Linked DNA regions of Homo sapiens. The protein of the gene in region 4 interacts with the protein of the main gene of each other region in a pairwise test. Each region holds a gene or a part of one and is shown on either strand. Other genes may lie near its edges. The genes, in order: ZCCHC17, ZNF219, ZNF8, AP1M1, NECAB1, GCSAM and EVI5L.

Evidence for each region.
Region 1: the proteins of AP1M1 (region 4) and ZCCHC17 interact in binary tests that used the Homo sapiens proteins (3 or more experiments, as listed by UniProt).
Region 2: the proteins of AP1M1 (region 4) and ZNF219 interact in binary tests that used the Homo sapiens proteins (3 or more experiments, as listed by UniProt).
Region 3: the proteins of AP1M1 (region 4) and ZNF8 interact in binary tests that used the Homo sapiens proteins (3 or more experiments, as listed by UniProt).
Region 5: the proteins of AP1M1 (region 4) and NECAB1 interact in binary tests that used the Homo sapiens proteins (3 or more experiments, as listed by UniProt).
Region 6: the proteins of AP1M1 (region 4) and GCSAM interact in binary tests that used the Homo sapiens proteins (3 or more experiments, as listed by UniProt).
Region 7: the proteins of AP1M1 (region 4) and EVI5L interact in binary tests that used the Homo sapiens proteins (3 or more experiments, as listed by UniProt).

Annotation. Positions count from the first base shown.
Region 1 is NC_000001.11:31,342,032-31,345,531, reverse strand, and holds part of ZCCHC17 (zinc finger CCHC domain-containing protein 17), read right to left. Parts: intron 1-3,500.
Region 2 is NC_000014.9:21,095,856-21,100,152, forward strand, and holds the start of ZNF219 (zinc finger protein 219), read right to left. Parts: upstream 2,801-4,297; 5' UTR 2,457-2,800; intron 1-2,456. UniProt on the Homo sapiens protein: Transcriptional regulator. Recognizes and binds 2 copies of the core DNA sequence motif 5'-GGGGG-3'. Binds to the HMGN1 promoter and may repress HMGN1 expression. Regulates SNCA expression in primary cortical neurons.
Region 3 is NC_000019.10:58,281,955-58,285,454, forward strand, and holds part of ZNF8 (zinc finger protein 8), read left to right. Parts: intron 1-3,500. UniProt on the Homo sapiens protein: Transcriptional repressor. May modulate BMP and TGF-beta signal transduction, through its interaction with SMAD proteins.
Region 4 is NC_000019.10:16,225,411-16,228,910, reverse strand, and holds part of AP1M1 (AP-1 complex subunit mu-1), read right to left. Parts: intron 2,491-3,500; coding exon 2,364-2,490; intron 1,364-2,363; coding exon 1,221-1,363; intron 775-1,220; coding exon 703-774; intron 142-702; coding exon 1-141. UniProt on the Homo sapiens protein: Subunit of clathrin-associated adaptor protein complex 1 that plays a role in protein sorting in the trans-Golgi network (TGN) and endosomes.
Region 5 is NC_000008.11:90,917,275-90,920,774, forward strand, and holds part of NECAB1 (N-terminal EF-hand calcium-binding protein 1), read left to right. Parts: intron 1-217; coding exon 218-354; intron 355-3,500.
Region 6 is NC_000003.12:112,123,249-112,126,748, forward strand, and holds part of GCSAM (germinal center-associated signaling and motility protein), read right to left. Parts: intron 2,007-3,500; coding exon 1,978-2,006; intron 528-1,977; coding exon of another isoform or gene 525-527; coding exon 207-524; 3' UTR 1-206. UniProt on the Homo sapiens protein: Involved in the negative regulation of lymphocyte motility. It mediates the migration-inhibitory effects of IL6. Serves as a positive regulator of the RhoA signaling pathway.
Region 7 is NC_000019.10:7,854,218-7,857,717, reverse strand, and holds part of EVI5L (EVI5-like protein), read right to left. Parts: intron 1,704-3,500; coding exon 1,650-1,703; intron 627-1,649; coding exon 594-626; intron 1-593. UniProt on the Homo sapiens protein: Functions as a GTPase-activating protein (GAP) with a broad specificity.

The DNA.
Region 1 (3,500 bases), on a different chromosome or scaffold from region 4:
TATACAGCTCACTTGATTTTTCATAATTTGAACATACCAAAGTAACCAGTACTCAGATCAAAAAACAGAACATTAAGGCTGGGTGTGGTGGCTTATGCCTGTAATCCCAGCACTTTGGGAGGCCAAGGCGGGTGGATCATAAGGTCAGGAGATCGAGACCATCCTGGCTAACAAGGTGAAACCCTGTCTCTACTAAAAATACAAAAAATTAGCCGGGCGAGGTGGCGGGCGCCTGTAGTCCCAGCAACTTGGGAGGCTGAGGCAGGAGAATGGCATGAACCTGGGAAGCAGAGCTTGCAGTGAGCCGAGATTGCGCCACTGCACTCCAGCCTGGGCGACAGAGCGAGACTCTGTCTCAAAACAAACAAACAAACAAACAAACAGAACATTGCCAGCATCTCAGAAGCCCATCTCATGCTCCCTTCTAGTTACCTGCCTCCCCCAAGGGTAATCACAATTCTAATTTCTAACAGTACAGATTCCTTTTACTTAAAAAAAAAAAAAAAATAGCCAGGCATGGTGGCTTGTGTTTGTAGTCCCAGCAACTCGAGAGGCTGAGGCAGGAGGATCACTTAAGCCTGCAAGATTGAGGTTGCAGTGAGCGGACTGCACCACTGTACTCCAGCCTGGGTGACAGAGCAAGACCCTGTCTCCAAAACAAACAAACAACAAAAAAAAACCCATAACAAAGGCAGAAACTTGAGGACATAACTCAAGGAACTCACAAACATGGTTTTTGCTTTCACCTATCTATTTGTAGAGATGAGTTTCAAGTGGCTGTGAGTTGCAGCTTAAGCAACCCCCATGACAATCAATTCCAATACTCTGTGGCTTCTACCAGACTACAAACCAAATCATACTTCCCACTTAACACTCAATTCAACAAATGTGTCAGTCACCCACGTCTCTCTTTTTGTCCTCATTGCCATCATTCTAGTTTAGGCTCCCATCATGTTTCATCTAGAGTAATAACTCCCTCACTGGTCTCCCTGCCTCCAGTTTTCTTCCTCCAATCCATCCCAGCACAGATTCTGAGATTAATCTCATTTTTTCAGTACAGCTAGTAAGTGGATAACGCCAGTGCTAATACTAGTGATAGTAATAATTATGTATACCAAAACGAACAAAACATGATTCTTTTCTGGAAAGAACTAATAGTCTGGCAATGGAGGGAGACATACAAATGAAAAATTTTAACAGAGTTAAGTCATATGTGCTTTTTCTAAAGACTACCCTATGGACCAGCAGTTGTGGCTCACACCTATAATCTCTCAGCACTTTGGAAGGCCAAGGTGGGAGTATCACTTGAGACCAGGAGTTCAAGATCAGCCTGGGCAACACAGCAAGACGTCATCTCTACAAAAAATTTAAAAATTAGGCCAGGCATGGTGGCTCACATCTGTAATCCTAGCACTTTGGGAGGCCGAGACAGGAAGATCACCCGAAGTTAGGAGTTCAAGACCAACCTGACCAACATGGAGAAACCCCGTCTCTACTAAAAAAACAAAAATTAGCCGAGCATAGTGGTACATGCCTGTAATCCCAGCTACTCGGGAGGCTGAGGCAGGAGAATTGCTTGAACCCAGGAGGTGGAGGTTGCAGTGAGCCGAGATCGTGCCACTGCCTCCAGCCTGGGCAACAAGAGTGAAACTCTTGTCTCAAAAAAAAAAAAAAAAAAAAAAAAATTAGTGGGGCATGCTGGCATGGACCTATAGTCTTGGCTACTTGGGAGGCTGAAGGAGGAGGATCACTTGAGCCTAGGAATTTGAGGTTGTAGTGAGCTATGATCACTACACTCCAGCCTGGGAGACAAAGACCCTGTCTCAAAAAAAAAAAAAAAAAATTATATACTACACTCAATTCTGATCTTGATCATAATAAAAAAGAAAAAGACTGTACTTTGCAGGCTATGCCTAATTGGAAACTGCTTTTAGCCCCTTTCCATTTACAGAGTCACTTATTAGATTATCTCATTAACACTTTGGGACCTGAGGGGATGAATATAAGAGTTAGATTTTTATGGAAAATGAAAGGTGGCTAACAAACTATGGATGGCTGAAGACAGGATGAGAATACTGAGCATAACAGGGCAAGGCCAGACAATGGGATTCCTGGGGAGGTTAATCTGACGAGAAGCCTCTCTGTCCAAAGGCTTTTTTAAAAAAATTCATGGGCTGGGTGTGATGGCTCACGCCTGTAATCCCAGCACTTTGGGAGGCCAAGGCAGGCGGATTACTTGAGGCCAGGAGTTCAAGACCAGCCTGGCCAACATGGTGAAACCCCGTCTCTACTAAAAATACAAAAATTAGCCGGGCGCAGTGGTGGGCACCTGTAATCCCAGCTACTCAGGAGGCTGAGGCAGGAGAATTGCTTGAACCTGGGAGGCAGAGATCATGCCACTGTACTCCAGCCTGGGTAACAGAGCAAGAGTCCATCTCAAAAAATAAATAAATAAAAATTCATATTCTTTAACTGATATTCATGGCTCTCCACAATCTGACCCTAAATTATCTTTCAAGCCTTCCATTCTAGTACTTGACCATATCCTCTTCTTTCCTTAAACAAGGTTCCCAAATGTACTATGTGCTTTTCTGCCTCATTCCTTTCCTCAAACCATTTCTTTTGCCTGAAATACCATTCCTTCCCCTGCTGTCTGACAAGATCTTATCTGTTCTTCAAAACCTAACTCAAATACCACCTATTCTCTGACCATCAAGGCCTGAAGTAAACTATTCCTCCTCAAGTGAATTCCTAGAACCCTTTCTTTAAACAGGGAGTCCCTAACCCCCAGGCCACAGACTGCTACTGGTCCATGGCCTGTTAGGAACCAAGCTGCATAGCAGGAGGTGAGCAGCAGGTGAAGGAGCATTACCACCTGAGCTCCGCCTCCTATCAGATCAGCAGCAGCATTAGATTCTCATAGGAGTGCAAACCCTATTGTGACCTGCACATGTGAGGGATCTAGGTTGCGCACCCCCTATGAGAATTTAATGCCTGATGATCTAAGGTGGAACGGTTTCATCCCAAAACCATTCCAGCCCCCTATCCATGGAAAAATTGGTCTTCCACAAAAGTAGTCCTTGGTGACAAAAAGGTCGGGGACAACTGCTTTAAACTACTCTTTTAGTATTTATTACAAGTTGCCTTATATTTGTTGAACAAATGAGTAAATGAAAGTACTAACTAGGGCTGAGCGGTAGTGGCTCATGCCTGTAATCCCAGCACTTTGGGAGGCTGAGGCGGGGGATCACTTGAGGTCAGGAGTTTGACACCTGCCTGGTCAACATGGTGAAACCCCGTCTCTACTAAAAATACAAAAATTAGCCAGGCATGGTGGACTATGCCTGTAATCCCAGCTACTCGGGAGGCTGAGGAATGAGAATTGCTTGAACCCAGGAGGCAGAGTTGCAGTGAGCCACGATTGTACCACTACACTCCAGCCTGGGTAACAGAGTGAGACTCCATCTCAAAAAAACTAAATGAATACTATGGATGCTATA
Region 2 (4,297 bases), on a different chromosome or scaffold from region 4:
CTAGAAGAATTTTAATTAGCTATAAGGAGCATCCTGACAGTTACAGTTTGTACATCCTGGAATGAGTTACTGAGGCATCATATTTGGGTCCATCACATTCTGTTGCTCTCCTGGGGATTCCCGGAACATCCTGGTGTACAGCCAATCTGGTATATTCAGAGGAAGCAGATGGTGGAGGCGTGGGGCGGGGGGGCTGGGAATACTGCATGGTCATAGCTGACTAACCTATGGGCACATACTCTCATTCTGAGAAGATTCTAGGGCCCCTAAAACTGTCTGTAGGATAGCAAGCAAAATCTCTTAGGAAGCTGGCCTCATATCTGAGGCAAGAAGAGTCAGAAAAGGGCAAAGCTTCCTATCCCAAAACAAAACAACAATAAACCACTTTGCACATAGCAGTTTCCAGAACAGAAATAGAGTGATATACAAGAAGGCCCAAACTGAAGCTGAATTCCCCAGCACGGAAAGTTTCCCCAGAAGGTGGCCTAAAATCAACAAAACTCACTGAGATACCTTCTTAGGCCCAATGAAGATCTGAATCATCTCCATATCAAACCAGGTTCCAGACACCTGATCCCATGATTTTTTTCTCAGTAGGGGAAAGAACTGACAGGGACTGGGATACTATGAACTGCCTTGGAACCGAGGTCATGCATATATTGCCCCTGGACAATAATCACAGAGTTTTCTATAGTCAGGCCTTAAACACCATCCTCGAGACTTGGCCAGACAGCAGCACTGACCTACTTTCCACCCCCACTGGGAATCAGGGGTTATCTTGCCCTTATTTGGATTCTATAAGGATGCGGGGCCAGGGATAGATATCAGAAACCTTTCAAAAGCAGTAGGCCAATTATCCTTACATGCTGGGGCAGCTGGTAGGGAAGTGGGTGTGGACCACTAAACCTTACTCAGTAGAGAAGGATGGAATGGTTGGTGAAAAGACTTAGAAACAACAAGGACAGGTACATAGAAGTATTTGCTAAATGGACCACAAAGACTGTCCCTCAAGTCTTGTGATTCAAAAGTTTTTAGGGTCAAAGTGTAAGGAGCAAGGGTTCAGGACTTCTGGGGTCCAGTTGTAACTGCCTCTGGTCACCTCTAACACGATGGTTTTCCCTCTTGAGAATCCTAGACCTCCCAAATCTGCTAACAATTATGATTACCACTGCACTAGATGGGGTTAAAAGGAAAGGGAGCTTCTAGGGCGGTCTACGTTCAAAAGACTACCTTGATCACACAGACACACCAGTAGTTCACTTTTATGGTCTCCTCTCCATGGCCCTCTGAACCTCACTGCTCAGATAGCTCCTCCTAACCCGCTCCACTCTGCAGCTCACCAGCCTTTTTAGACTGAGATCTTGGTAAAGCCTCCTTCCCTCTGTCCTCACTCTCCTGAGTTAGGGACATGGAACCTCAGCCATGGACTTCAAAGGTACAGCAGGAGGCGAGAGGAAGGCACACCTGCTCACCTGCTGCCATCCCACCATGGGGAATCTTATCCCAGAGGCATGTCCTAACGCAACCCCGATTTTGATTTTGAAAGTTCTGGAAGACCTGGGTTTGGGAAAGAGGGGCATGTAGCCAGCCCTAAGTCCCTTTAAGTGGAGCTGACCCTAGAAAAGTCAGTCTTAGCACCCACGTGAGCCTCGGTCCTCAGACTGGGAGGTAGGGGCGATCAAGGGAGCCTCTGGGAAAATCCCCCTCCCAGAAATAGATTGCTAAGTAGGGTAGGACCTGCTATCCTGCCGGAGAGGTTTTTCCAGCAGCACCCCAGACCCCTCCCCAGGAAGATAAGCCAGAAGGATGATGGGGGGCAGGGTTGGGAGATAGGGAGGCCAAGGCTCAGCTACCCCCGGCCAGGAGAACAAAAGCTGAGTTACAGCCGCCTCCGCTGCTGCCGCGGGCCGAGCTCTTTGTGACACTTTGTTTGGGACGCAAAGAGGGAAGCACCCCCCATCCTTTCCCCTCCCCCGCCACCCCGTGCTTCCAGAGAGTTTGGGCTCCTTCCCCCTCCCCCACCAGCCCTACCTGGGCCGGGGGTTGGGGGGTGCACATCCACTCAGGCTCGCGGCTCTGCCGCCCCTCACCCCCAGGTCCCTCGCGCCCTGCCTTCGGGCCCCTACAAAGACACCCGCCACCTCCCCCGCCACATCCCCCCCGTTGGCCCTTCCCTTTGGTGTCTGCTCCCCCAGCTCTTCCACCTGGCCCCCCCTCCCTTGGGGCCCCCCAGCTCTCCAGGCTTCCGAGGCCGCCACCCCCACCCCGCCCCCCCAGGAGCTCTGGGCGAAGTTTGCTTGGGGCCGAGCCGGCGCCCCTCCCCCGCCCCCGCCCCCTGCACCTGCTCCGAGCCGGGCGCGCTGAGCGGGCCCCCCCTCCGGGAGGGGGGAGGGGGCCGGGGGCGGGGGCCGGGTGGCGGACGGGGGGGCCCGGGAGTCGGGGGAGCGGCTACTCACGAGCCCCGGGCGGGCGGCGGCGGAGCGGGCGGCGGCGGCGGCGGCGGCGGCGGGCGGCGGGCCGGCGGCGCGGGCGTCAGCGTTACGTGGGGCCGGGGGAGATGCGCCGGGCCCCGGCCCCCCCGCCCCCGGCCCGGCCCCCGCCCCCTCCCCGGTCCCCCGCCCCCGGCCCTGGCCCGCATTGTGTGCGGCGGGAGGCGGCCCGGCCATTAGCATGCGGGGGGCGGCGCGGCGGGGCTGGGAGCCGCGCGGGAGCCGGGCTCTGGCTCCGGGGACAGGGAGCTGGGGACCCCGGGAGCCGCGAGAGGCGGCCGCCAGGGGCGGGGTGCGGGCGGTTTGGAGACGGGGGGCGCTGTCGGAGGGAGGGAGGAAGGGAGGGAGCGGGGGTGGGGCGCACAGAGGATTCCAACAGGAGACTGGAAGAGATTTTGAAAGGTCATCTCGTCCTTCCCCCAGCCTCCAAGCAGCACTGCCCCTCCCTCCCTAAACCCGGACATACCAGGGAAGGAGTTGGCTCTGCCGCTCTTTCTGCCCCAACATGCACAGACTCGGGAAGTTCTTCCTGGGGTTTTATCTCAAAGCCTCTCCCTTACAATTTCTGTCTCTCTTTTGGGGGAGGAGGAGGGGCGATTATAGAGATAGTTAATGTCGGCCGTATAAGAAACATTATTAAAGTTACTCTTCGGTCCTTTCCGTTCTTGATAAACAATTCCTGCGCCTTCCTCTCGAATTCTATTTTCCATTCCTCAAGTCACTTTAATGGCTCTTCAATACAACAAATATTTACTGAGTGCTTACTAAGTGCCAGGCACTGGGCTCAGCGCTGTGAGGGATGAGAAAGAAGTGGTACCTTCCTTCCAGGCGATTGTAGTCTAGACTACAAACTGGTAAGTAGTATACTCAGATTTAGTCAATATTTACTGAATGCCTGTTCACCTATCTAATAGTATATAATCTTTCCAATAACCCTCTATAATTAAATTAGCCCCCATTTACAAGTAAGAAAAATGAGGCTTCAGGAAGTCTGTTTCCCCAGTGGCCTGCAGGCTCGGGGATCCTCAGTGCAAGCCCAACATCTCACATCGCCACCAAATAAAATCAATGCACGTGGGAATTGAGGAGGAGTAGACACACAGCAGTTTTCTGGATCTCTTTAAAACGTGACTCCCACTCCCCGGGAAAGAAAAGAGTAGATACAATGACCCGCCGATGTTGGCACAGCACTGATGGGGCAGGAGTGGCTTACAAAAGATCACTTGCCTCCCAGGACCCTGCCTCCCTCCTCGTACTAACTTCTAGAGTCTTCTGGCGCAGTCTCCTCTTATCGTCAACAACAAGAAATAATAATAGTGATGATGATCATAGCCACTAACATTGAGCACTTGTGTACCAGGTACTGGGCTAAGCTCTCTTCCATGCTGAAAGCAACCCCTTGAGACTGGTATTATTAACTTCCTTTTATAGATAAGGGAACAGAGAGATTAAGCAACTTGCCAAGGGCACCTAGGTAGATCTGGGATTTGTTTTGATCTATAGAGTATATTTGGGCCCAGCTGGTTCTGCTTCCGACTGTAGAAATGTGTCCCCAGCTTCCTTCTGAATAACACTTTTAGTGTATGGGCATCAGACTTATCGGTGTGACCTCATCAGCACCACTAATAGTTATTAAACACCCACCCTGAATCAACAACTCTTCACAGTCATATTGTTAGCCCCCTTTTATCAGTGAATAAACTGAGGTGCGAATAGGTAGAAAAACATATCTATCAGGACAGACACAGTGGCCCACACCTGTAATCCCAGCAGTTTGGGAGGCCAAGCAGGGAGGATGGCTTGAGCCC
Region 3 (3,500 bases), about 42 Mb from region 4:
GTACAAAAATTAGCTGGGTTTGGTGGCACATGCCTGTAATCCCAGTTATTTGGGAAGCTGAGGTGGGAGAATCACATGAACCAGGGAGATGGAGGTCGCAGTGAACCGAGATTGCACCACTGCACTGCAGCCTGGTCAACAGAGTGAGGCCCTGTCTCAAAATAAAAAATAAAAAAATTGAAGTATTTAGTATATGTGGTTTTGTTTTGTTTTTTAACCTAGCAGCAACACTGGTGGTGTATAGTTTTGATTTTTCATTTCCCTGATGACTAATGATGTTGAACATCTTTTCATGTACTTATTTGCCATTTGTGTATCTTCTTTTATATATTCTTCAAAGAAATAACTATACAGATTCTTTGCCTATTTTAACTGGGTTGTCTTTTTATTACTGAGTTGTATGTGTTCATTACATATTCTAGATACAAGTCTCTTATCAGATATGTGATTCCCAATTATTATCTCCCATTCTGTGAGTTGTCTTTTCACTTTCTTGCTAATGTCCTTTGAACTACAAAAGTTTTTGTTTTGATGAAGTCCAATTGATTACATTTAGTTGCTTATCCTTTTGGTTTCATATCTAAGAATCCCTTGCCAAATCCAAGGTTACAAAGATTTATCTCTCTGTTTTCCTCTAAGAGTTTTATAGTTTTAGCTCTTACTTTTAATTTAATTTAATTTTTTTTTTTTTGAGATGGAGTCTCACTGTGTCGCCCAGGCTGGAGTGCAATGGCATGATCTCGGCTCACTGCAACCTCTGCCTCCTGGGTTCAAGCAATTCTCCTGCCTCAGCCTCCCAAGTAGCTGGGACTACAGGAGCACGCTGCCACGCCCGGCTAATTTTTGATATTTTAGTAGAGATGGTGTTTCACCATGTTGCCCAGGCTAGTCACGAACTCCTGAGCTCAGGCAATCCACTCGTCTCAGCCTCCCAAAGTGCTGGGATTACAGGCGTGAGCCACTGCGCCCAGCCTCTTACATTTATGGCTTTGTTTCTATTTTATTTTATTTCTTTTTTTTCTCTTCTTTTTTTTTTCTTTGAGACAGGATGTCACTCTGGTTGCTTAGGCTGGAGTGCGGTGGCATGATCTTGGCTTGCTGCAACCTCCACTTTCCAGACTCAAGCACTCCTCCTACATCAGCCTCCCAAGTAGCTGGGACTACAGGCAGCCTGGCTAATTTTTTTCAAATTTTTTTTGTAGAGGCAGGGTTTTACCATGTTGCCCAGGCCAGTCTTGATCTCCTGGACTCGAGTGATCTGCCTGCCTCAGCCTCACAAAGTGCTGGGATTACAAGCATGAGCCACTCTGCCCAGCCAGCCTAATTTGTTTTGAGTTAATTTTTATATATGATATAAGATAGAAGTCTGTGTTAGTTTGAATGTGTCTCCCAAATTTCATGTGTTGATAGTATTTGAAGGTGGCGACTTTTGGGAGAAATTTAGGATTAGATAAGGTTATCAGGATTGGACTCCCTTGATGGGACTAGTGGCTTTAGAAGGAGAGAGAGACCTGAGCTGGCACACTCTTGCCCTCTCGCCATGTGATGCCCTCCACCATCTTATGTCATAACAAGAAGGCCCTCACCAGATGCCAGTACCATGATATTAGACTTCCCAGCCTTCAGAACTGTAAGAAATAAACTCTTTTTTTTTTTTTTTTTTGAGTCGGAGTCTCACTCTGTTGCCCAGGCTGGAGTGCAGTGGCGCAATCTTGACTCACTGCAAGCTCTGCCTCCCGGGTTCACACCATTCTCCTGCCTCAGCCTCCCATGTAGCTGGAACTACAGACGCCCACCACCACGCTCGGCTAATTTTTTGTATTTTTAGTAGAGACAGGGTTTCATCGTGTTAGCCAGGATGGTCTCGATCTCCTGACCTCGTGATCTGCCCGCCTCGGCCTCCCAAAGTGCTGGGATTACAGGCATGAGCCACCGCTCCCAGCCCACAAATAAACTGTCTTCATCAAAGTTATTGAAAGAGAGAGAGAGAAAAAAAGCAACTTTCTTTATAAATTACTTCGTCCTTAGGAGGACAAGGCGAGAGGATCACTTGAGGTCAGGAGTTCGACACCAGCCTGGCCAACATGGAGAAACCCTGTCTCTACTAAAAAATACAAAAATTAGCTGGGTGTGGTGGCGTGCACCTGTAGTCCTAGCTACTCAGGAGGCTGAGCCAGGAGAATCAACTGAATCCGGGAGGCAGAGGTTGCAGTGAGCCAAGATTGTGCCACTGCACTCCAGCCTGATTGACAGAGTGAGACTCCCATCTCGAGAAAAAAAAAATAATAAATTATTCAGTCTGTGATATTCTGTTACAGCAACAGAAAATATGCTGGGACAGGGACTATCTTTACTCTTTTCCATGTGGCTATCCAGATGTCCTGTAGGAAGTGTTTGTAAACCACTTAATCATTATACAGCCCCCAAGGGGTGATGCTTTGTTGACATGGAAACTGGGAAGCAAAGATGCTTCTTGGGGACGAAGTGACTGAGCCAAGACTCTGATCCAGAAATATCTGGCTTTCAAGCATGGCTGCAGAAGGGCTTTGTTTATGGGACACATTTTAGGTAATGTTGCATCAACTTATAAAAATCAGAATTTTTCACGTAAAGGCCAGGCGCGGCGGCTCCCGCCTGTAATCCCAGCACTTTGGGAGGCCGAGGCGGGTGGATCACTTGAGGCTAGGGGTTCGAGACCAACCTGGCCAACATGGTAAAACCCCATCTCTACTAAAAATACAAAAATTAGCCGGGCGTGGTGGTGCGCTCCTGTAGTCCCAGCTACTACGGAGGCTGGGGCAGGAGAATCACTTGAACCTGGGAGGCAGAGGTTGCAGTAAGTGGAGGTGGCACCACTGCACTCCAGCCTGGGTGACAGAGCAAGACTCTACCTCAAAAAGAAAAATAATTTTTCACATAAAAATCTGACCTAATTTTCAGCTTCTCTTCAGAGATGAGCAGTTCTGACAAAGGGACCTGTATTTTCCCGTAATCAGTGAGTTCTGAGTCCCTGCTGCTCCTTCAGACAGGGTCCATGCTCCCCATCACCTCCAGTCCCACCACTCATAGGTAAGTGTCCTTGTGGGCTCTTAAACTGGCCCACTTCTGTCATGTGAGCCTGCCTTGCCCTGAAAGCAGGCGAATTTCTGACCCCAGCCCTGTGTGCTTCTCTTTTCAGGAAGGATGGTGAACCTGTTTTTTTGTTTTTTTTTTTTGAGATGGAGTCTCACTCTGTCGCCTCAGCTGGAGTGCAGTGGTGTCTTGGCTCACTGCAACCTCCACCTCCTGGGCTCAAGCGATTCTGCTGCCTCAGCTTCCCAAGTAGCTGGGATTACAGGCATGTGGCCCAGCCAATTTCACTTTGTATCTAAGTATTAGTGAGTGTATTAGTTAGCTGCTGTGTAACACTGTCCTAAAACAGTATCTGTTTTACTTAAAACAGTAACTGTTTCTTTAGCTCACAAACCTGCAAATAAGTGGTTTAGGCCAGTCTCTGCTGG
Region 4 (3,500 bases):
CCACACGATCTCGCTGTTCTCGGGGACCCACTTAACGCTCCCCACCGTCGTCTTGAACTTGGGTGAGTCGGCATCATTGGGCACGGGAATGTGGATCTCCACGTTGTTGGCTGTTGACCGCCGCTTGAACTGGCTTTTGGCCTGCAGGCCAGGCCAATGCGGCCCGGGGTTATGGAGGCCAAGGTGAGCTGGCCAGCCTCTCCAGGACACATGCCCCTCAGCCTGGCCCGGGGGATCCTCCCTAGCCCCGCCCCTGGCCCCACTTCTCCAGGCACTACCCACCCCTTCTCCTGCCCTCGAGACTCTCCCAAGACCTAATTTCAGGAGTTTCATCTTCATCCTCCTGTCTGCTCAGCTTCCAAGGCTCCTCATCCCTCCCTCTGCCCTGCCCTCCTAGGACAATGTCTATGTCCCAGGGCCAGGCTGCGCTGGACAGGGTCGCTGAGGGGCAGAGGTGCTCCACCTGGGGGCAACACCTCTGGGAGTGTCCTGGATGCCTGGCTACAGGCCCCTCCCCACAAGTGGCACCATCTAGGAGCAGGCCCCAGGCGGTGTCCCCTCAGTGTCAGGTCACTCCTGCATCTGAGGCCACAGTGAGGGTGCACGGATGGCAGCCCTACGGCACCCCCAGCCCTCGGTTAGGCTCCTGGGACGGGCCAGAGACACCAGAAGGCCCTCAGTGGGTGGCCTCGGCCCACGCACCTTGATCATGTACTCGATGCGGCTGTGGGAGTGCTTCTCGATCACCGACTCGATCCATATCAAAGGCTTGACCTGCCAAGGAGGGCAAAGAGGGTGCTCACACCTGGCCTTGTTTGACAAAGGCCCATTTCAGAGGGGAAACCAAGGCCCAGGGCAAGGGACCATCTGCCCAGGTGTGGGCCCAGAGCCCTGCAGGGAGCGTACAGCCAGCGTCAGGGAGGGCCAGGGCAGACAGGCCGAGGTAGCCGGGAGCTACCGGGGAGGCCTTGGGGCAAATGCAGAAAACATGACCAGGGCCTGCTCTGGGGGCTGCCTGGGAAAGGGGTGGTGGTGGCCAAAGGGGTCTGTGCCCCTCAGAAAGCTCGGAGTCCCAAGTCCTCAGACTCCATCTCTGCAGAGCCAGGCAGCTCATGGAGCGTGGGGTGGGGCTGGCCCTGGCGCCTGCCTGGGCTTCACCTCCTGGAGGTGAAGGGGAGGAGGAGTCTGCCGACAGCCCAGCCCCAGGGTGGCGCACTCACGTGGGTGTTGAGACGGTAGGACATGAGCTCGAACTCGCCGTCGGGTGGGATGAAGGAGATGGTGCGGTCATTCTCGAAGCGTGATAGCCGCACACACTGGTGGAACTTCACATCCTCCAGCTCCACGGATTTGCTTTTGCCGCCTGGGGTCAGGGGTGAGGGTAGGACAGATCTGGGCCCTCCGGGTCACTATCTCAGCAGTACTCCTACCACCTGCAACCCACCCCGGCAGAGCAGGGCCCCCAGTCCACGCACTGAGAGCAGCCTGGGCCACAAACACCAAGGGGGCTGGGTCCCAAGACAACTGCCCCATCACTCCTCACACCCCTGGGGTCCCCAGGGGCAGGGCTGGTGGGTCTGGTTCATGCTGAGTCCCCAGCGGCCATCCCAGGGCCCAGCCAGGGGACCTGCTCAGGACACGTTCACTGAATGATTGATCAGTGGACTTGGCTGGGGGATGGCTCGGGGCTCCCCAAGGGCTCAGGCCCTGGCATCCACGGGGTCCTGGGTCCTACCTTGGTTTGCCACCTCACTGAGGGCTATGTGGGTGGGGCCCTGCCCAGCCCCAGGCGGGGAGCTGCCCTGATAGACTGATGCCCGAGAAGCCCTCACCGGGCTAGGAACGGGGGCATGCCCAGCCACTGCACCCTCTTCCAGTGGCCTGTGACAGCTGAGTGGGAGGCACAGTTCACAAAACCAGGCCCTGGGCCCCTCTGCCCCCGCCCTGCTGTGGGAAGTGTTAGAGGCCAGGCGGCGGGAGCGAGAATCACCATGCGTGGCCTTCACACGGCCCACACCTAGGGCCCAAGGTGAGGGGAGAAACCTGGCCTGGGAGGGAGAGAGCAAGGCCTTAGCCTAGGCCCCAGTGCCCCAGGCAGAGCAGGGCAGGGTGCAGGACCTGGCGTGTGAGGCCGGGTGACGGGGGCCTCCCAGCTGGACTGGAGGATCTTCACTCCCCTGCACCTTCTATGTCCAGGGAAGGATGAATACTCTACACAGCTGTCTCAAGCAGTGTGAAGTGCTGCTCAACCAAGTGCTTGAAACCAGCTCGTTCCTCCGCCTGGCCCAACCCTGCCCTAGGCTGTAATGTGTGTGCCTGGTGAGGCCATCCTCATGGGCAGGGCCCTTGGCAAGGGTACTCACGGCCCGTGTTGTCAAAGAGGACCTTGTCGTTGAGGCCCAGGCGCAGCTCGGGCATGCCCGAGAGGAAGACTCGCATCTTGATGGAGCCCACGATCTCGCTGCGCAGGACATTGCCGTTGGCGCTGACCTGGGGGTGGCGGTGTGGGCGTGAGGGGAGGTCCCCAACTCACCAGCCACTGCCTCCTACCACATCATGTGACCCTCTGGCCACCCCACTCTCAACGCCCTTCTCACCTCCAAGCCCATCCCTCTCCTGGGCATCCCCTGAGCTGGGAGAGTCCCAGCTGTGGCTAAGGTCTACCCCTAACCCACACCAACCCACGCCTGGCTGAGGGTCCCCAGGCTCACCCCTCCAGCCTTCATGCCGAGGCCCTGTGGACATGAGGTGGACACTGTGGGTCCTGCCCTCTAGGCCTCAGGCCACACTGGGACCTGATGATGCGTGCCTGGAGCCCCCTCTGAGGGTTCTCTATCAGGTACCAGTCCCTCCCTCCCAGGAGCCCCCTGAATGCTCCGGGCCGGCCCGGCAGCTGGTCCCCACGCTGAGTCAGCTTTGAGAGTCCATGAGCTCGGCTGGACCTGGGCCAGGACCCTGTGGTCCCTGCTCAGCCGATGGGCTGGGCTGGGCTGGGGTCTCTTGAACCAGGCCAGACTTGCTTTTCTTGAAAGCTGTTTCTCCTCTTGGCCTCCCAGGGAGGCCACTGGCCCCTCACCCCCCAGGGCTTATGAGAGATGGTGCTTCCTGAGTCCTGACCCCTTCTTGCTTCTCAGGGCCACCCTGAAGTGTGATAACACTTGATCCAAAATAATCAACTTAAATCCAGTCACAGTGGCTAACACTGACAGCATTTCCACTGCGCCAGGCATTGCTCCACACACGCCTCGACAACCTCTGGGGCAGGGACTGTGGGGAGATGACCTGAGGGGCTGTAACCCACTGCGCATGCCGAGATGCATCTGAAAGTGCAACTGAAAATCCACACCGGGGCGACGGTCCTGCACCCCCTAGCCTGTCCTGCGTGAGCCAAGATGCTGGAGCATCTCTTCTTGCATCCATTTTAGAGGTGAGGAAACAGGCACAGATCAGAGGCCCCGTGCTGAGGGCACAGAGTGACTGGCAGAAGAATCGCTGGGGCT
Region 5 (3,500 bases), on a different chromosome or scaffold from region 4:
ATATTCCAGTCATTTCTGCAGCTTTTTTATTCATCTCCTGGTGGGTGGATGAGAGTGATGCTGTAGCCTCCAGGGCTCGACAGATCTTTTCCCTTCTCTCCACCCTCTCTCTCTAGGATCAATCTGGGATTGATGGGTACATGGTAAAAGAAAAAAAAAAAATCCTGGGTATTTTTTTCTACCATACTTCTAATTGCATTTGTTTTGTCACCCTTAGGACTACCAAGAAGCCTCCAATTTGGAACAATTCGTAACTAGATTTTTATTGAAGGAAACCCTGAATCAGCTGCAGTCTCTCCAGAATTCCCTGGAATGTGCCATGGAAACTACTGAGGAGCAAACCCGTCAAGAAAGGCAATTTACATGTTTTCATCTGATGTCTATTTAGTGACTCTATGTTCATGAAAAAACAATTGAGAGGCATTGTACTTACACTAGCAAAAACTAAAAAAGAGAATTGATATATTTAAAAAGAATGACAGTGACCTCCACTGGTTGCTTGCCTTATTATTTGCCTCTAAAAAGACCATTCTACTTTTTCTTTTACTGTCAGTCATTTAGTAAACTATATATATATATATATATATATATATATATGTGTGTGTGTGCGTGTATATATATGTCTGTGTGTATATATATACACACACACACATATATGTGTATGTGTGTATATATATACACACACACATATGTGTGTGTGTGTATATATATACATATATGTGTGTGTGTATATATATATATTTCTTTTTTTTTGAGATGGAGTCTCACTTTGTCACCCAGGCTTGAGTGCAGTGGCACGATCTTGGCTCACTGCAAACTCTGCCTCCCGGGTTCAAGCAATTCTTGTGCCTCAGCCTCCCAAATAGGTGGGATTACAGGCACACACCACCACGTCCAGCTAATTTATTGTATTTTTTAGAAGAGACGGGGTTTCACTATGTTGATCAGGCTGGTCTTGAACTCCTAACCTCAGATGATCCACCCATCTTGGCCTCCCAAAGTGCTGGGATTACAGGTGTAAGCCACTGAGCCCAGCTGAGTCAACAAATTTTAATTGAAAATTTAGTAGATGGAGAAGACTTTAAAGTATTATGAATAATATAAAGATACATTTAACATAATGTCAATCCTTAAGGAAGCCTAAGTCTATCATATAAATAAGACATGAACACAAAAACTATACTGCAAAGAACAAAGTGATAATAAATACCGTAGAGAAGAGGAAATACATTGCCAATTGTTTTCAGAATATTAAAAGATTAAATATGGATAGAGGGATGGAAGGATGAGAAAGTCAATTTCATGGAGTTTCTCTATTTGAGCTTGTCTTGCAAAATCAAGAGATCAGTGAAAAAGCCTGGTGGGAAGACAAGACTTGAACTGGACCTGTAGGATGAATTTGAATGGCAGAATGAGAGTCTCTCTAGAGGGATCCGTCTCACCCACCTCCTGTTACCCACCTCTCATGTGGCTCACTTCTCTTTGGTTGTCTGGTCACTGATTGGACAGTAATTTCTCTGGGAAGCCTTCACTGCTCATTCATACCTCCCACTTCACTACCGTGTATTCCTATAGTGCCCCCTATTTATATCTACTTATCTCAACCCCTTCCTTGTTAATTTGGTGTAATTTTGAAAATGTGGAAATGATGGGAAAGACCCTTACAGACTACATGAACCTGGATATACTTGGGAGACCTGATAATTCAGTAAGCCTAATTATTTCAGGAAATGGAGAAAAGTGAATGATGGAAATTATTTCAAAATTCAATGCCACCAATAGGTATCACTGAGAAAATAAGTAGTCATATTGCAATAGCTATATAAATAAAGGCACTAATGCTTAAGAGACACCTATACTAAAAATGTGTAGGGCACACATCAAGGTGATCCCAGCCAACAGTTGATATTTTTCTGAGTTGTCATTGCTTATACTTTGCAAGCTAGAGAAGCTTGCAAAACTCTTGCTCCTGGGGCATATTTTGGCAGATGTGTTACTTTAAACTTATAGATGTGCTTTATCTAACTTTTACATCTTAAATTAGAGAGAAGGAAACAGTAAGTTTTCTGAACAGGCTGATAATAGACTACCCTGCAGGACCAATTTTCCTGAACAAATTAACTGATACATAATTATTAGGACATCTCCAAAATAGTGGAATTTTCAACCATGTGTTTACAATGTCAAAATGAGTGAGCACCACCAACTTCTAACAAAAAATCCTGTAATTCCAGAATCTAATGAGCCCATGCAGCTGACTGTCACAGGGAAGTACTCTTTAGCAGATCTGTGAAGCATCCTCTACATCATAAACTTCCTGTTTTCACTGCGTTGGGTGATTCTATACCAAATGGCAAAGTATAACAATTCACTTTAGAAAAGCAAAACCCACCTCCTCAGCTTTGAGCAGAGGATAACTGAATGTCTTGAAGCACAGTGAAATGGATTTCATGTTCCTAATGAGAAAAATGAGGCCTCCTGTGTTGTTTCTTTTGTTTGGACTTTCTGGAAATAAAATGGGAACTCCCTTTTTAGAATCAGTCATCTGCCACCTGAGAAGAGGCTTGAAAAAGTGCTCTACTCCCCTTCTTCACCTGCGCTTTTGTTTTTTTCTACAGTCATCCCCTGAAAACCTGTGCTCTGCATTTACCACCATGCTGTGAATGTTTAATGAACAACTGTTTTCTGTGTTAGGCCACAGGCTAGCCTTGAACTCTTGTGACTGCTGCCAGCAGCTGCCTAGCAGCTGTGCTTAATGAGAAGGAGCATGACAATATAGACTTTAAGGAAAGTAGAAGGCACTAGAGGATTAACGAACCTTTTACTTCTGGATTTCTCACTCAAAAACAGCTTCAAATAATGGGAAATGTTACATGTCTGACTGCAGTTTAAGGGGTGCTGTTGTATGGCATTTGACTAAGACACCCAGGAATGACAAAATCCCACCCCAAATCTGTGATATTCCCCCTGAGAGGTTTATAAAGAAATGCATAAACAAGCAAACAGAAAATAAGGTACCACTATGGATTTATGCCCGTAATATCTGATGAACCAGACTGAAGCACGTGAATTATGCCCAAACCTAAAGGGACTGTGTCTCCTCTCCCAAGGCTATATCTTCCTATCAGCTGGCCACCAAAAGTGAGGAGAGCCCTGGGACCTTCATCAGTGAGGAAAAGATAGAGAGAGAAAAACTATACCTTTCCTATGATGTCAATCAAGAGACCAGTGAAAACGCCTGATGGGAAGACAAGACTTGAAGTGGAACTTTAGGATGAATTTTAATGGCAGAATGAGATTCTCTCTAGAGGGATCCGTCTCACCCATCTCATGTTACCCATCTCTCATCTGGCTCACTTCTCCTCGTCTGTCTTGTCACTGATTGGACAGTACTTTCTCTGGGAAGCCTTCACTGCTCATTTATACTTCCCACCTCATTACCATGTATTCCCATAGTGCCCTCTATTTATATCTACTTATCTCAGCCCCTTCCTTGTTTA
Region 6 (3,500 bases), on a different chromosome or scaffold from region 4:
GGTGTTGTTCAGGATAAATGGTTGATCTTTAGATTTTGGCTTTTGCGTGCTAAGAGGGCTTGTGGTATACAAACCATGCTCTGCAGGGAAAGGGTTGTTGTGGGAGATAAGCTGGAGGGACTTTGTGTCCCATCCCTGCTTCAGGCAGATCCCCCATCCCACCTTTTATTTGTTGGTGCTAAACAAATGCTAGTCCAGCCACTTCACTATAAATGGGAAAACTGAGTCTCAGAAGGGGCCATAAGTGGACGTGGCTGTTGCAGAAAGTGAGAGGAGATTCTGTGAGGCATGAGAAGTTCATATTCATCTTCTGGGGATCGGGCATGCCTGGGGTCTGTAGAAGGCATATGTAGAAGTGAATACTCAGTCTCAGTTCCTCCCAAGGACTCTCTGGGTCTCTCAGCTTTGCAGGGAACATTCTCATAGTACTCTTCAGCAGAGTTCCCTGATGGCCTTGTACAGAGAACCCGATGATTGATGAGGGTATAGCACAGCTCCTCTGAGTAGGTCTGGTCAACATTGTCCTGCTTGTCAAAGAAGAACCATCATCAAGATTTGGTCTCTTGCCATGACCTTTACATTTCAGTCTCAACACAGGCTTGACCCTTGGTCAAGTCTGTCTTCTATGACCACCTCCTCCCCATCTCTTGGCCATTTTTTTCTAAATGGCTGCTTCTACCCCAACCACTAGGCTAGCTGCAAGAGTGCTTAAGGTCTAGAGCCTGCTCAGGTGCATCCTCTGCCCCTTGTTCCAGAGTGACCTCTGACCACCTGATATAGTTTGGATATTCGTCCCCTGCAAATCTAATGTTGAAATTTTGTTCCCATTGTTGGAGGTGGTGCCTAGTGAGAGGTGTTTTGGTTATGGGAGCAGATTTCTCATGAATGGCTTAGTGCCATCCTCGCAGTTATGAGTGTACCGCCTGAAGAACCATGAGCCAAATAAACTTCTTTTCTTTATAAATTACCCAGCTTTGCATATTCCTTTATAGCAACACAAGTGGACTAAGACACTACCCATATAATTCCCAGTCTCATGGCTCTGAGGATAGCCCATTCTAATAAAAAAGAATAATCTGGCTGGGCACGGTGGCTCACACTTGTAATCCCAGCACTTTGGGAGGCCGAAGTGGGTGGATCACCTGAGGTCAGGAGTTCGAGACCAGCCTGGCCAACATGGTGAAACCCCATTTCTACTGAAAATACAAAAATTAGCCAGGTGTGATGGCACACACCTGCAATCCCAGCTACTGGGGAGGCTGAGGCTGAGAATCGCTTGAACCCAGGAGGCGGAGGTTGCAGTGAGCTGAGATCGTGCCATTGCACTCCAGCCTGGGTGACAAGAGCAAAACTCTGTCTCCAAAAAATAAATAAATAAATATAAATAATCTTATGATATCTTAATGTGTTTTGGCTGTGATATTTAATTACCCTCTAGAGATATTTATGTTATTAAATAGGGAAGCGACTCAAGGGAAGGTTTCACTTATGATGGGATATCAGGAGATAAAAAGCAAAGCAGCAAAGTACAGGGGGAAAAGCATGGATTGTGAAGTGAGACTTGGTTTTGAATCCTGGTTCCGCCCCCTTTTAGCTATTTGGCTTTGGGGAATTGTCACTTAATCTCTCAGTTTTCTCATCTATAAAATCGGGGGATGGGATGGATTATAGTAGCAATATTCAAGGGTTGTCGTTTTAGCTACATGAGTTGATGTGTGTAAAGCACTCAGCATGTTGTCTGTCATAAATGAAGTGGTCAGTAAATTTAAGTTCCTTTCAATAAATTATACAGCAGAAGTGGCTGCTGCTTCTGCCACCCGGCCCTGCACCTGCCACCCGAGTTCACAAGCACTGACATCTAAAGTCTTTCTCCATGTAAGGGTCAGAAGGGATCTCAGAGGCCAACTTCTCCTGCCATTTAGGGTGTCTGTACTTCTATCATCATCTCAAAAAATAGCTTAGAGATGTTCTTATTACCTGGATGGGAGTAGATGACATTCTTTCATCTGGAGAAAGAAAATACACTCAATGAATTTCAGGTTATGGGGAGATTTGAAGGGAAGAGCAGGGGAGGCTAGAATATAAATAACTAAAAAGCCAAGAAACAGCTGGGGTAGCTCTTCTCAGGCTATTCTGATCTACAGCACATCCCTGGGGAGTGACAGGACATCTAAACAAGTCACAGCTAGAGCTGTGCTCAGCCTGAGAGGTGAGAGGGGGGAGACACATTTGGTTAGTCTTTGGAAAGGAAATCACGATTTCTTCCTCCAGCTCTCTTTCCCTCCTTACCTAGCCCCGTCTCCTTCCTTACACAAAATTGATTTGTGTTCCTTACACAAATTCAGTGCCTCTGCACCAGGCACTGGGGAGACAAAGGAGAATCAGAAACATTCTCTGTCCTCAAAAGGCTCACAAGCTAGCACAGGAGACAGACAAGGGGCTCTGAGAGATCCACACTGTGGAGCAGAGGGCCGTCGTTTCTACTCTAGGTGACGGGATGGTGGTGGTGTGATAATTGGTGTTCAAGGAGTTTTGCAGAGCAGGAAACTCTTAAGCTAAATATTCCCATTCCTATACCTGCTGGCAGATAACAAATGAGCAGGGCGATTTTTCAAAGCCTAGTTAAAACCAAATGGCTCTGGCCATTCAGCAAAGAGGCAAACTGACACCCTTGCTACCCTCTTGCAAACACACCAATTCCATAAACAAACATGTGCCCTCACATGAAAGTCTACAGAGGAAGCTACCATATGGTATATGGATTGACATTCTCTCGGTCCTCACATCCTGGATTTCCACATCTCCATAAGCTCCTATAGGCATCTAAAACTTCCCTGATTATCATTATAAGAAAAGCATCTTCAGCATAGAGTTTTAGCATCTGGTCTTATTTCTATTACGTTTTGCTCTGATGGAAATTGAGGTTCCCTGGGACCCACGACTCCTGGAGTGAAGTGGCTAGGGTGGGAGGCTGTATTATTCATTTACACATCTTGCAGGGCTAGATTTTAAGATTCTATGTAAATGAATTAGGTTCTCCTCTTTAAGGAAGGAAAAGTCAAAACTCTTCCATTTTTCTTCTTCAGAAACACAATGGCTTGTCCTCAGGCCTACACTTTCTTATTTTTATTTTTAGGTGTGATACAATTCATCACACTCTCCTTCTAGAATTCTTTCTCCTTAACTTCAGTGCTATTCTATCACCAGAGACTACTGCACCAGCCTCGTAAGTGTTCTTCTGGTATCTGCTCTTCCGGCTCCTTGCTGCAATTTGTTTTCTGCACAGGAACCTGGGTGATATCTTTAATACAAATCTAATCATACTTGCCCCCGCCTCCCCACTGTGTAAAGCCAGTATCTCCTGCAGCTGTCAGGACAAAGATGAAAATCTTTAACTTGGCCAGGAGGCCCCACCCCTCCCCTATCCCAGGCTGGCTTTCTTGCAGTTTCTTGTAAGTGCCTTTCTCCTCCACCTTTTGTATCCTTGCCCCCAGTTACTG
Region 7 (3,500 bases), 8.4 Mb from region 4:
AAGACCCCCTTTTTTCCCCCACCTCATCTTTGTCCCCTACCCAACTTGGGCCCCCCATTCCAGGCTCAAAGCCACCAGGTGGCGGGTGGCAGCTTCCAGATAAAGCCATTCAAGATGAGGTGGCAGCAGGAGCAGGTGAGCTAGAGAAGGTGGTAGCAGGCATTGCAGGTAGGAGCAGAGAGCAGCAGCGTGAGGGCCGGGCGTGTGTGTGCGTGTGTGTGTGTGCATGTGTTGTGTGTGTGTGTGACCGCAGCACTGCACACACCAGGGCCTTATGTGAATATGGTTTTAGGTTCCCCAGCCCTCCTGGGTCCCCACCCTGTGTCGCCCGGAGGAAGCTTTCTGTACATGCATGTGGACATTCACACCCAAACGCACTCACAGCCCCTCCACACACACCCTTCTCCCCACTTCACATGCCCCGCCCCCCCGGGAAGCCTCTGTGTCCCCCAGAAGCGGTCCCCAGCTGCTCCATGCATGGCGCCAGGCCTGCCCGCAGAATGGCAGGGAAGAGGCGGTTACTGGCTGTCATGTGCAGGGTGCAGGGAAGGGGCCAGGAAGGAATCCGGAGAGGGGATAAAAAGCTACAGTACCTGGATTAACCTATCAGCCAGAGCAGCGCTCTCCTACCCGGCGAAGGGGGTTCCCAGCGACAGGGGGAGGAGGCAGAGCGGAAGGCGCGGGGACAGGAGAGGGGAGACAGACAAGAACCACTTGTCACTAACGCAGTGGACTATCTCTAGAAGCGGGGGAGAGAGGAGGGAAGACCAGAGAACCAGCAGGAGAGGACCCGGAGGAAGACCAAAGCTAGAGCCAGCTCCGTCCTGGAGAGGGGTTCGGTGTGAGCGGGGAGGTCGGGGGTGCCCGCGGCTGTGGGGGAGGCCGCAGGGCTGGGAAACCCACTGTCCCACCCTCCAGGGTCAGCCGGGCCGCTGCTGGCTGGAAAAACTGTGGGGGGCAGGGGGACTTTTGGCTTCGTGCGGACCTCCTGGAGAGTGGGAGAGGAGGGGGTGCGTTGTAATTTTAAGGCAGAACAAGGCTTTGGGGTGAGGGCAACCAAATCCGGCTGCCAACCCACTTCCTGTGGCCAGTGGAGGGTCAAGTGAGGACGAGTGAGGAGCAGGAATTGGGGGCTCCCGGGGCTGGGGCTCAGTGAGCCCCCAATTCCACCCCCATCTTTAGCATGTTGGGGAGCAGAGTCCGGGCTGTGGCTCCCCACCATGGCGCCACGCTTCTCCTCCACTGGGTTTCCTTTCCTTTCTTTTGAGGGCAAGACTTCCAAATTACAGGGTGGGGTGGCTTGTGGCCCAATTACGGGGCTCGTCCATCAAAGTGGCAGTTCTCCCTCCTCCTCACCCCTCCCCGTCTGTGCAGCCGGGGAGGGCACAGAACACAAATGGATTCCCGTGGCTGCAGGCCACTGGGTTGTAACTCGCCCCCACTCCAGGATTAATCACCATACGAGTCGCCCCCAGTTGCAGGGCACTCCAAATCGGGTTCAGGTCGGGTCCTGGGGCAGGAAGGTAGGGCTGCTTAGTCCTCCAGAGAGGAGAAGACTTGGAGGAGTCCACCCCAGGTTAGCGGCCATGCCCCGCATGGTGGGTCACACCCCATGGCGACCATGTCCTCACAGTGGCCACGCCCCTCACCTTCTCTAGGGTTTCAATCCGCTGTTTCAGGAGCCGGTTCTCCGTCCGAAGTCTCTATGGGGGTGGGGGGAGATCACGTCATAGCCCGCCCCCCACGCCTGTCTACATGCACCCCTCATTTACCCACTGCCGGGGTCAGTCCCCTTAGGGCCAGGCCACTTTTCCGGGCAGGGCACAGCCAGCATCTTACGTTCTGGGTCAGCGATTTCAGAAAACAGGGCCAATTCCTGTTCAGACTGGCTTGATTACAAAAAAATAAAGTTTTAAAACAAACCTGGGTTCAGTAAAAATAACGTCAGTGCCTTCGTGGCTGTGTGTGTGTTTGGGGGCCAGTCAGTACCCACGCCCCCTCAGAAGACTCCTTCCCACACGTGGGTCAGTCTGCCAAGGGTTGTGCGGGAATCAGTGGGGGAAGCAGCTGTCGAGCAGCCACCACCCACCCCTCGCTGCTTTGCCCCAAGCACCCGGGTTCAATTCCGGGGGCAGGCTCCTCTTTGAGTCTGGGTCCAGCGTGCTGATCATGCATCCTTTCTCGACAACTACATTCCCATGACCTGCTGAGAGCAACCTGTCCCCAGTGGTTTTCTCTGTTCCCTGGCTGGGGTTTCGAAGACGTCTCCCTTGCTCCTGCCTTCCATTCTGTGCTGATGGATTTTGGCTAGATATTTGCGGTTTTAGGCCAGGTGTAGTGGCTCACGCCTGTAATCCCAGCACTTTGGGAGGCCGAGGCAGGCAAATCACCTGAGGTCAGGAGTTCGAGACCAGCCTCTACTAAAAACACAAAGATTAGCCAGGCGTGGTGGTGCATGCCTGTAATCCCAGCTACAGGGGAGGCTGAGGCAGGAGAATCACTTGAACCCGGGAGCAGGGGTTGCAGTAAGCCGAGATCACCTCACTGCACTGCAGCCTGGGTGACAGAGCAAGACTCCATCTCCAAAAAAAAAAAAAAAAAAAGAAAAAGATATTTGCACTTTAGGTTCCCCCAGGACACTCTGGGGAGCAGGTGAGGTTTGCAAACGAGTTGAATCTCGACTGTACCTGTGCCCCCTTGCTTGATACTAAGGTGGTACAGAAATTGTTTGGATTGGCAGGTGAGTGAGGGCCCTGCCACACTGCAGGTCACACAGAATATTTCCTGGGTTTCTTCTGGGGAGAAAAGGTGATGGAAACACCTAGAACATTCCCAGGAAGCAAATGCAGTCAGACAGAACCGCAGACTTGACAGTCATTGATGCATGTCATGTGGGGAAACTGAGTCAGAGTGGGGCAGGGCATTGCCCTAGTCCCTCAGTTCAGCTGGGTCAGAGCTATTTCAGGTCTCTGGTCCTCATAGCAATCTGGAGCCCTGATCCCTGGCCCCTGGGTTTCCCTATCATCTCTCTGGCTTCAACCCATCACAGCACCAAGCACAGCCATCCTTGCAGGAGCTGGGCACACCTTTTGTATTTATTTCTATATTTTTGTAAAGACGGGGTATTGCTATGTTGCCCAGACTGGTCTCCAACTCCTGGCCTCAAGCCACCCTCCCACCTCAGCCTCTCAAAGTGTTGGGATTACAGGTGTGAGCCACTGTGCCGCTGGAGCTGGAATTGAATCCTTGTCTGTTGGACTCCAGTGTTAGCCACTGTGCGGCTCTGCCCCTGAAGAGCATGGAGCCAGGCTGTGTTGGGTTTGTGTCTGTGTCCCTTCCTATCACTGGTGCGCCCTCAGTCTCAGCTGTGACTTTGGCACACAGCAGGTGCTCAATAAATGTTTTTTTTCTTTTCTTTTCTTTTTTTTTTTTTTTTGAGACACAGTCTCACTCTGTCGCCCAGGCTGGAGTGCAACGGTACAATCTTGCCTCACTGTAAC